Linked DNA regions of Homo sapiens. The protein of the gene in region 2 purifies or fractionates together with the protein of the main gene of each other region. This does not show direct contact. Each region holds a gene or a part of one and is shown on either strand. Other genes may lie near its edges.

Region 1 (5,048 bases), on a different chromosome or scaffold from region 2:
CAAAAAGACTATTTTTACCCAAATTGTATACACCAAAAAAAATCATTATTTAAATGGCAATAAGTAGATGTGCTTAGACATTGAAAATCTCTGAAAGTATGCAACCTTAGTGTCTTCTCTGAAAAAAAAAATTGAATAATTTCTCTAGCTGACTAAAACATGAATTGAAATAAAGGTAAATACGAAAATTAGTATAAAATAAATTGCAGTGAACTATGAAAGGAGTAAAATGGCTTGTTTCTCTAAAACAGAAGACCTTGTGACAAAGCTCCTTATAAACTTATGCAAACACACACACTATAAAAATTCCTCTGTGTTTTAACAACTGCAGAAATTGACCTTTTTGAGGCTTGATTCAGCATGATGAAAGAGGACTACAAACCACCAAAACACTTCAAATTCTTTTCAATATACTAAGTGGAACCTAAATAAATACTTGTCCTGTGCAAAAGGAACTGTGTTCTGATGTCCGAGAAGTGGATTCCCAAGCTTCATTTCCTAACTCCTTAAGGAGAGTTGAGACCTCAGAAGGGTGAGATCTCTGGGGTCCAAGGGTAAGCCAGGCCGTGCCTGAAGCTGGGCTAGGATGAGAATTTCTATTCAAAAGGACAGGGTGTGTGACAAGGGACAGGTGGAGGGCTTGACTGTGAGAAGAAGAACTCCCACACCTACAGGAAACACAATCCATGCCAAGATACAGCACCTGATGTGGCATTTCCAATGGATATGAAGTCTGGGGCAGATTCTCTTCCCCCATCCTTCACTCCCAAGAGTGCCTGCTGGTACTCAGATACTCCTCATAAGTTATATGTTACCTATTGCTGACAATGCTGCGTCAGGCAGAGCTGTGCCCTTGGCCCTGCACCACCGGCTTCCCATCTGCCACTGTCTTCCCTGGTGGCTTCTGAGATGCTCTGGAGCAGCGTCTTCCCTGAGAGAGCTGGGGCTGTGACTCTGGTGCCTCTTCCAAGGTGAGCTTTTGGCTGTCACTCATCGGCAGGGCCCACATTCTAGAACTCTACCAGAAGATCTAACTTTAAGCCACAACAAAAGCAGCCTTCTGTGAGCGGGCAGGAGTCATCCAAGGCATGTATATCCTTTTCCTCCAGGAGAAGTTGCCTTCTTTAGGGGAGCCATCATCCCAAGAGTTTCTCCTTTCTTTGGGGGGACTGAGGGTAACTTAGGCACCCTGCTAAGGATCTGATTCCTCTTCAGATGGCCTCCCGACTCAAAAAGGCACTGCTTCTGAGAAACTGTGGGTGCTTTAGAAATAAATCTCAAATGCCCACATTGGGTGAAATTCCCCAAAATTGAAATTGAGGCACAAGAGAGACACTGAAGACAGTGTTTGATGAGAGGGCAGTGGGGGAGTGGCTCATGGGCGAAAGGAGTTTGGGGCATCCACTCTCTGGAGGTGGTGGTGTGCCCTCCACTTCAACCCTACTGGAAAACTTTTCAAAACACTGCAGTGTAATTCGATGTCAAAAATCATTCTTAACAGAAAAGAGGTATAACGTAACATATAAATGAAAAACCATGAAACCATTACATAAATCTATCATTTTATTGTCTAAGAAATTTAATTATAAGGAAAAAAGGAAAGAAAATACATATCTATTATTTAGGTATCCTTCTACAATGAATGTATATTATCAGTTATTCATTTCCCTCATTCACTGATTCAAAAAAAAATAAAAATTAGTCAGGCCCTGCTCTTAGCAGTTAGAAAATGGAGCTTGGGAATCGCCTTCTCCGACATCAGAACACAGCTCTTTTCATATGGGACAAGTATTCGTTTAGGTCCCACATAGTATGTTGAAAAGAATGTAAAGTGTTCTGAGGAGTTAGAGACACAGCAACAACCATACAAAACCCCTGGCCTTACGGAGCCTTATTGTGCATGAGGGAAGGTGGGGGAGATGAAGGAACAAACTTTAACGTTAAACACTCTGCCAGATAGTCATAAGTGCCTTGGATATATTAATATAAAGCAGTGAGGGGGCACTGAGAATGTTGAGCAGAGAAACAGTTCAATTTGGGAGTAAGTCATGCAGCTTCTTAGGAAAAAGTCTTTCTAGGCAGAGGGAATGACAGATTCAAGTGCCAATGGGGTCAGCGTGCTGAGGCCAGGTCCACAATGAGTGAGCTGGTGACAGAGATAAGGTAGGGAAAAGGCTGGGGAGCAGATCCTGAGCCAAGAAGTGGCATGACGTATTTTCAAGAGAACCCCTGGGGTTTCTATGTGGAGAACAGACTAAAGGGAGCAAGGTCCGAAGTGGGGACAACTGTTAGGAGGCTATCATAAACATCCAGCCGAGACATAATAAAAGTTTGGGCCAGAATAACAGTAGAGGTATGGTCAGATTCAGTATATATCAAAATTAGGGTATAGGTAGGAACATAAAGAGATGAGAGCCTGAGCCCTGGGAGAGTCCACTATTAGCAGTCCAGAGAAGAGCAGAAAGAGCAAAAAGGCTTGAGGAGAGGAAATAAGGTGGGAGAAGGAAAACCAGAAGACTAGCATGTTGAAAGCCAAGTGAAGACAGTGCATCAAGATTGGGGAATTAATCTACAATAAGATGAGGACTGATCAAAGATTGGTTGATTAGTAATGTAGAGCTTCTTGCTTTTGACCAGAGTATTTTCAATAGAATGGTGACAAAAGTGATTGGAGGGTGTTCAAGAGAGCATGGGAGTACAAAAATTGTAGTTAGCATGAGATTTGCTTTAAATAGAAGAGGAGAATGAGATTTCAGCTGGTAAGATCAAGAGAAGTTTTTTTTTTTTATTTAAAGATGGGTAAAATAAAAGAAAATGTTAAGGGGGAAAATAGAAATTTTTTACTGGAATTGGTGAAATCTAAGACTATCATATTTATTCCAGGAAAAACAAACCACTAATTGGTGGAATATTTTCAGATCTTTGGGCACTTTGCCCCTGACCACCATCCTCAAGGTCAGAATCAGGAAGAAACAGCTCAAGGTTATTGGAGAAAGTAAAGATGTTTTCAAAGCAGTATAGTGACCACCTCTGGCTTCCATTCGTAAATTTGTCTTACATTCCATCAGCCTCCTTACTCTCCTGGGCTTATCTTCTTTGGATCTTTTTTCCCCAGTGCCTGCTTCTCCCTCCCCATCTCAGCATTAATTGTCTGAAATCCAGGGTCTATAGACACACTGAATTAAGTCCCTTAAATCAAACTTTGTGTGCTTCCAAGAAAATCTGTTTCTTGAAGAAAAACTCAAATATTGCGAAACTCAAGTATTGCAAATCAGTATGGTTTATTCTTTGAGGATCAGGAGGCCACAAGCAGTCAAGACTTCCTCAGCTCACAAAAGAATATGCTATCTCCAGCCATCTGAGACCAAAATGATGGAGTAAAGGTCAAAGGAGAAGTCATGCTCTTAATATTCACAAAGTCGTGATTTCTTAAAATGAAAATCCAATCCATGCAAGACAAGATTCATGATCAAATAGATTTATTGAGCACTTTATATTAGTCTGCCTCCCCCAGTCACACAGAAACACCCTCTGAGGATTTGTAATGATGACATACTGAGAATCCAAAAGCAATACAAACATATGTTAAGAACATAATTTCATCTACTCCTTTCTCTTGAACAATTTAGACTAAAGCCACTAGGTAGGACCAAGGAAGATAGGCTTCTACATGGGCTGGCCTGGAGCGCAGAGCCCATGTGTGAAGGAGACAGCGTAATGATACATGACTGGTTACCTACTGCAATTGAATAGTAAGCCAGTTTTCTCACTGGCTGAGAAGGGAGTAGCAAAAATGAAAGGAAAAAAAAAACTAGAATGAACCATGTAGTGTTGGATTAGAATGAAGGCATCAGTTTAAACACCTGTATGGATTAGAACTGGAGGTTCAGAAATAAATATAGATGTAAATGTGTATATATGTATGAGTGTGTGTGGGGAGGGATGTGTGTATTCAAACTTAACACCCCTTGCTTTGTCCATTGAGAGGACCTGGTAGCAGTGCCACCTGATAGCACTGAGCATGACCAGAGCACAGGTTCTAACTTCCACATATTATTCTCCAGGAAAAGTAACCAGGGCTTCTTGAAAAATGGTTTATCCTAGGACTGGGGCAGGAAAAGTATAGATGATCTTGAAATATCTTGCTGTGCCGGAAAGCAAGGAAGTGCCCAAACACATCAAAAGAACATAGAAACCAATTTGAAGAGGCTTCCACTGGCCAAATCTAGGACATTATGAACAGCAAAGTAAACAACGAGAGCAAATAGAACAAAATTAGAAGGCTTGAGTCCACACTGATACAAATAAAGTATAATTCAGAAGATTAATGAAGAATGGGATATGTACATGGTTTTAAAATATTTCCCTACCAAATCTTACTAATTAAAAAGAAAAAATGTATCATTTCACAGTGAAGAAGGCTGGCAGACAACAGTCAATCAGGTGATCAAAGTGAACATCAGGATGCAATTGGAACAGAGTATTATCCCTGATATTCCTGCCAAAGGTAAGTAACTTGAATCTAATTATGAGGAAACATCAGACAAACCCAAATCAAGGAACATTCTACAAAATAACTGGCCTGCAATCTTTAAAAGCACTAAAGTGCAAGGAAGACTTAGGAACTATTCCAGACAGAAAGAGACCACAGAGACACCACACTTAAGTGTAATGCTTGCATTTAAATCTTTTTTTTTTTTTTTTTTTTGCTATGAAGAACATACAAAGAACAACTGGCAAAACATGAATGACACCTGAATTTCAGATGGTCAAAATGAACTGGTGTTAATCTCCTGACTTTTATGGTTGTATTGTGGTTATGCAGGAGAATGTCCTTGCTGGGAGGAAATACACTGAAGCATTTGGGGATCGTGGGTATATCAGTTTGGCAACTTACTATCAAACAGTTCAGGCGAGGGGGAAGCTCTTTGTATTATAATTGCAACTTTTCTGTAGGTGTGAGATTGTTTCAAAATAAAACAAAATTATGTATTTGAAAAATAATCCTCATCCTCCTTTCCAAACACATAAGATTACTGAAGTTACCT
Region 2 (6,350 bases):
GCAGAGATTGCGCCACTGCACTCCAGCCTGGGTGACAGAGTGAGACTACATCTCAAAAAATAAATAAAAAGACAAATGAGGTTGGACAATAGCTTGATTTTTTAAAAACTCCAAGCCAGTTGCCCAATAATCCATTTTGCCATTGATGTGACTTGAAACTAAACACCCATATGTGCTTTTACTTAATTCTGCTCACTTCTCAGTTTCACTGATGCACTGGTACTATGCCATTGGAGGCAATACAGCATTCTAATGCATTTACAGATATGGAAGAGAAATCCTCCCCTTTTATTTTCATTCAGAAATTGCCTGGCTATTCTCACATGTGGTCTTACCCCAGTCAGACCCAACACCTCACTTTTATAACAAATATTTGGTAATGCACCCTTTGTTATATGAAAGGAGATATTTGTGGATAATGTAACCCCAGTCTTCATGATAAACAAAAAGGCCCAGCTGATTTCCAAAATGCACCCCAGTTTAGAATCAGTCTGGCAAGTATCACATGAAATCCTATTGGTATTTGATTGGGATCACACAGCATTTGCAAATCAATTTAAGCAACATTTCTATTTTTACAATATTGTGGCCTCTAGCCCCAATAACAATTATTTCTCTTCATTTACTTATATCTTTGTGTCTGGGCAGGGTCCTGCCAGGAAACAGACGGCATGTTAAAGTGAGAAACTGATGAGTTCAGCAAAGTGACTATTTATATATTTGGACAGGATTTAAGGAAGTAAGAAAGGATGATGCAACACTTCAGAGGGGAGTCTTTCCGACCTCAGGCTGAAGGAGAAGGAACGATTACTGGAATTCAGGGAGGAGAGCATCACCAAACAAGAGCTTCATTAGAGGACTGCAGCCAACGCAGGGCCAGGCGGAGGGAGCCAGAGGGAGGCAGGCTCTGCTCTCCCTCTTCCTGCCCTTCAGTTTCCAACCACGGCCTCCTATTGGCCAAACCCAACCAGAAGCCAGCGAGCAAGGGGCTACTGATGAAGCACATATAGCTCAGCCTCCAGAGACACAGAACAGGATAAAAGGCTGAGACAGTGGGTCTGGTGGGGCAAAGAGAAAGCTTGCACCTGCCAGGTAAAGCATTATAGTCCCCATCCTCCCCCCACCACCTTAGTTCTTGTGCATTTCCCATCAGTTTTCTTCCAAAGCATTTCAGATCTCACTGATTTGAATGGGACCTCTTCTTCTATTACCAATTTGGATCAGTAATTATTTATGTATGAGAAAACTATTGATTTTTACATATCGTTGCATAGCAGAGTGGTTTAATAAGGAGACATTTGGTTTTTACTGCCTGTGTGGGTATCACTTGCTATGTGACTTGAGGCAAATCCAATATTTCTTCTGTTATAAATTCCAGTATTTGTAAAAAATGGGTAATAAGATCTCTATTTTATATAGTTTTAGTATTTAATGAGATAATACATATAAAGTCATTAAAACAGTGTCTGGCTCATAAAAAACCCTCAATAAATGTCACTTATTACTGTATCTGGTTTTTGAGCTGCTCTATTGCACCATTGAGTTTTCAGCCCAGTATATGTTAACCCTGATCATTATCTGCAGAAGTCCCCGTGCCACACTCTACATCATCCAAATTCTCTCCAGGTGGACTAAGTAGATTAAAGAACTTTAAACATAACTACCATATTTTGGCTCTATCTACAAAATGTCCAATAATCAGTTAAGAAAGGAACAATTCTCTTGGGGCCCACACTTTGAGAAGCAAATGCAGCTGAACTTTTTTAGAGGAAAGTGAGTGAACCAACTGGTAGCTTTGCCACTGCTTAAAAACCAGCATCCTTTCCAGCTGGGTCTAAGACAGAATAAGGTAAATTTAGATATGTCTCTAATATATCTATAGAACAGTGGTTCTCAACCCGGGGTGTTTTTGCCCCTTAGGGGATAATTTGCAATGTCTGGAGACATCTGTGATTGTCATAACTGGAAGGGGGCAGTGCTATTGGCATCTAGTGGGTATAGAGCAAGGGTGCTACCAAATATCCTATGGTGCAACAGAGAATTATCTGGTCAAAAATGTAAATAGTGCTGAGGGTGAGAAACCCTGCTATAAAAACGAAAGAAATTTGGTCTACAGAGTTGTTTGGATTTAGACAAGACGTTGCCCCAATAGTGGTGATAGAAATAAGAGGAACCCCGTGCTTTTGCAAAGCCCATATCTGGGGTGGCTTAAATAATCATGCTCCTCCCCATCCCCCGACCTGATCTTTGTAGTTGGAAACTCCAGGGCTGGCTGCCTGTAGTCTTTGTGACTACACTTCCTGCCTCCCATCACTTCATCTCAGAAGACTCCAGATATAGGATCACTCCATGCCATCAAGAAAGGTATTTTAAACATTGGAACACATATAGATAATTTAAGTAGGTAGATGTATGTGCTGTTATAAGGAAGTGGGGAGGAGAGAAGAGGGAACCGAAATCATATGCACAAAAATTTTTTTTAGAATATAAATAAAAAATGTGGTAGTCTAAAATGTCAATTCTTCAAAGATAAAGTTAGGCTTTCAGTAACGTTAGAAATGGTTTTCTGGAATATGTCTCCAGTCTACCTAACTTTGAGGAAGTAAATACTGTAAATAGATGTTTCAAACGCATTTTAAAGCAATGATCCTAGCATGTCTTTAAGCTACAGTATTGTGCTGTCTTTGAAATGTAAACTTTGATGTCTTCTCTTTCTCTTAGTTGATGCTATTGGGCCCATCTCAAGCTGATCTTGGCACCTCTCATGCTCTGCTCTCTTCAACCAGACCTCTACATTCCATTTTGGAAGAAGACTAAAAATGGTAAGAACAGCTCAGAGAACCTTAAAAAGTGTTATCTGTAATCTTTGTGGAAACAACTGAAACCAGCTGGCAAGAGCAATATTGAAGAATCTGTACTTAGGTTATTTGCTGGGGGAAAGTGCTTCCTGATATTTCACAATTGGCATTAATGAAGGGGGCATGTCACAATTTCAGATTAATCAACGCTTGCTCTGTTCAACTTCCTACAAGAATTAAATATGTGCTGTGGGGAGGAGGAGCAGATGTTTGAATTGGGGACATAGCTTCTATGTATCTCATTTCTTCAGCCTACAATTTTGGCTTTAAAGCCATAACAAATCACTGAATTACTGAAGTTACTTTGTGCTTTTTCCAGCATATGGTGTTGTCTTAATGACTGTGTGGATGAAAGTGTGTGGGCAGGCTCATAGCAATAAAATACGGGAAATCCCCGGGCTTGAGTGCTGTCAAAGAAAACTAAATTTGGACAGTAGATAAAGATACTATCAGGACTATTGCAATCGGCAGAAAGAGACCTCAGTATAGAAAGGGGCTCAATTCCAAATACAGCCAAAGACCAGTAAAGATTTCTGGCCAAGGAGTAGAGTGGGGGTCAGTGGATGGAAAATTACTAAGAGGAAACATCAAGGGTAAAAGGATTCTGGCTAAACCGACCTGACAGGATTCTTGCTGAAGACAGGCCAGGGTGATCAGACCTCACCTGTGGATGGTGGGAGATGAGGAATTTGATCAGATATTGAGGGTGATCACATACCAAGAGGAGTGGATTATCAATAAAATGACTTAGCAGGATTCCTGCTTGAACTGGGCAATGCAAAGATGGACATGAAGCCAAAGGCCGAAGCCTAGGGGTGTAGTAGAGCCTGATTAAGTTGAATTAAGGAGAGTCTTTGTCAGCGCTGGCTCTCCCAGTCACTAGTTGGGGGGGCCTTGTGCCTGTCATCAAAGTCCTCTGAAACTCAATTTCTCTGACTATGAAATAGGCATTAGAATCCCTCCCCTGTTGCCTTCCAGGGCCACTGTGAGGCTCAAATAATAGACTATTTTTCAAGTCCTTTGCAAGTGGTATGATGCAAGTGTGAGTTATTAGGTATGCCAAAACTTAGTCGGAAAAAGACGTCAAGGGCCTTTTTCTGAAATTATTTTGTCACTTAAATCAGACACATTCTAGATCCGAATGTTAGCTCCTAGGCTCATTTTGTGTCAAAGTTCTAATGAAGCATTAACCATGGGGCTATTGTTACAAAGGAAACAACTGCTTACGGTTTCATTTCCTAGAAACCCAGATGTCTATTTTAATGCAAACCTATGCCCACATCTGTCTTTGCCCCTTGATGGGTGGCATAATGGGAATGATAGTAATACAGAGAGCTCACATTTCTTGACCACTCAACTATCATGCTGAGGGCTAGATAGACATGATTCTATTTTGGCCTCAAAGTAGCCCTATAAGGTAGAGATAACGAAACTGGGGCTTTGAGAGGTTAAGGAGCTTGGGTGGCTCTGAAAGCTGTGCTGAAGACTCTTCTGTTCTTCCTAGACCAAGCCCAGCACACACGCAATAAAGATGAGGTTGGATATGATGGCTTCCTACTCAAGTACAAAGGGGAAATAGTATATCTTTTCTAAGAAAAGACGTGAAAATAATTTTCAATATAAGAAATTCAAAAGGCAAAAAAGCACAGGGAAAATATTCAACTGTATTGAGTCATATGGCAGATCCTTTGATCTAGAGATTACACTTTTAGAAACTCTTCTTAAAGAAGTGACCATGAGACTGGATAAAAAAATGTGGCACATATACACCATGGAATACTATGCAGCCATAAAAAGGAATGAGATCATGTCCTTTGCAGGGACATTGATGAAGCTGGAAGCCATTATCCTCAGCAAACTAACACAGGAACAAAAAACCAAACACCGCATGTTCTCACTTATAAGTGGGAGCTGAACAGTGAGAACACATGGACACAGGGAGGGGAACAACACTCACTGAGGCCTGTAGGAGGAGGGTGGGGCAGGAGAGAGCATTAGGGTAAAAAGCTAATGCATGCTGGGCTTAATACCTAGGTGATGGGTTGATCTGTGCAGCAAACCACCATGGCACGTTTAACTATGTAACAAACCTGCACATCCTGCACATGTACCCCAGAACTTAAAAAAACAAGCAATAAAATAATTTTAAAAAAACAAAAGAAGTGATCGTGGACATGGAAAACTATTTACCAAGATGGTCAGTGCAGCCAGGCAAAAAAAAAAAAAAAAAAAAAATCATGTCCCATGTTGGGAAGGGGTGAATTAATTGTAGTAGACTCATTAAATGGAATATTATGTAATCATCAAATCATGTTTTTTAAAATAATACTGAATGACCTAAGAAAGCACTCATGGTATAATGTTAAATGAAAAAAGCAAGCTAGAAATGGATAAGTACCGTGTATTCCTCATGTTTTTACTGCACCTGCTAGGCAAATACTAGATGCTCACTAAATGTTGGATAATCTGTGATGATGGTTTACATAAACACATGTGTTGCATATTCTAATTTCATTCAACATCCCTACTTTATAACCATTTTACAGTTGGCAAATCAGAGGCTCATGAGGTCAAGTGATTTATGAAAGTCAGAGAGCTCTTACATGACAGAACAAGGACTTAAAACCAAATTTTTGTACTGACAAAGCCTTGGCTGTTACTAGAATGCTTCTCACCATGTGAAATAGATGCAGGGATGGGAAATTACTATTAGAAGGGACCATCTCCCAAAATGTCAATAGTGGTTCAGCAAATTTAAAAGTAAAAATATTATTCTGCTCTTAACCTATAGGAAATTTCTTTATGGCTAAAAAAAGGTTATTAAGTAATCAATTTATTAAATTAATACAATCTGATTATTTAAAAATTTGGAACGCTGTACTAAAATTAAAAATCATCATTACAGATTAACCAGCCAGTACCTCTGCACCCCAAGAATAAATAATGTATATCCCCGAAACTCACCGAAGTTTAGGGCTGGGGTTGGCAAACTATGGCCCATGGGCTATATCCCACCTGCTGTACAGCTCATGAGCTAAGGGGTTTTTTTTTAATTGTTGTTTTTAAAAGACTGAAAAATATCAGAGCAAAATTACTATTTTGTGACATATAAAAGTTACATTCAAGTTTCAGTGTTTACAAATGGTTTTATTGTTTGAGTATTTGTTTACTTATTGTTGATAAGTGCTTTTGCACTACGATGGCAAACTATTCAAGGAGTTGGGTAGTGTGACAGAGAACCTGATGGCCTGCAAAGATTAAACCATTTACTAACTGGCCCTTTACAGAAAAAGTACGTCAGGCCGGGGCTTATAGAAAACAAAGGGATAAGGTATAAGGTCAAATAGGTTTGAGAGCCCTATGGTCTTTGGTGACTGTTGTGATGCATAATAGCTGTTGAGTTCCTAATTTATGTAAGACAACTTTATATCCTTTTATTCTTTTAGTTTGAAAACTAAGTCTGTTGGGCTAAAATGATAGGAAGTAAATGAT

Evidence for each region.
Region 1: the proteins of TLR7 (region 2) and EPDR1 purify together in Homo sapiens (affinity purification with mass spectrometry; one large-scale study listed by BioGRID and IntAct). This does not show direct contact.

The regions. Positions count from the first base shown.
Region 1 is NC_000007.14:37,926,139-37,931,186, reverse strand, and holds part of EPDR1 (mammalian ependymin-related protein 1 isoform 1 precursor), read right to left. Parts: intron 1-5,048. UniProt on the Homo sapiens protein: Binds anionic lipids and gangliosides at acidic pH.
Region 2 is NC_000023.11:12,864,760-12,871,109, forward strand, and holds the start of TLR7 (toll-like receptor 7 precursor), read left to right. Parts: upstream 1-2,312; 5' UTR 2,313-2,364; intron 2,365-2,721; 5' UTR 2,722-2,819; coding exon 2,820-2,822; intron 2,823-6,350.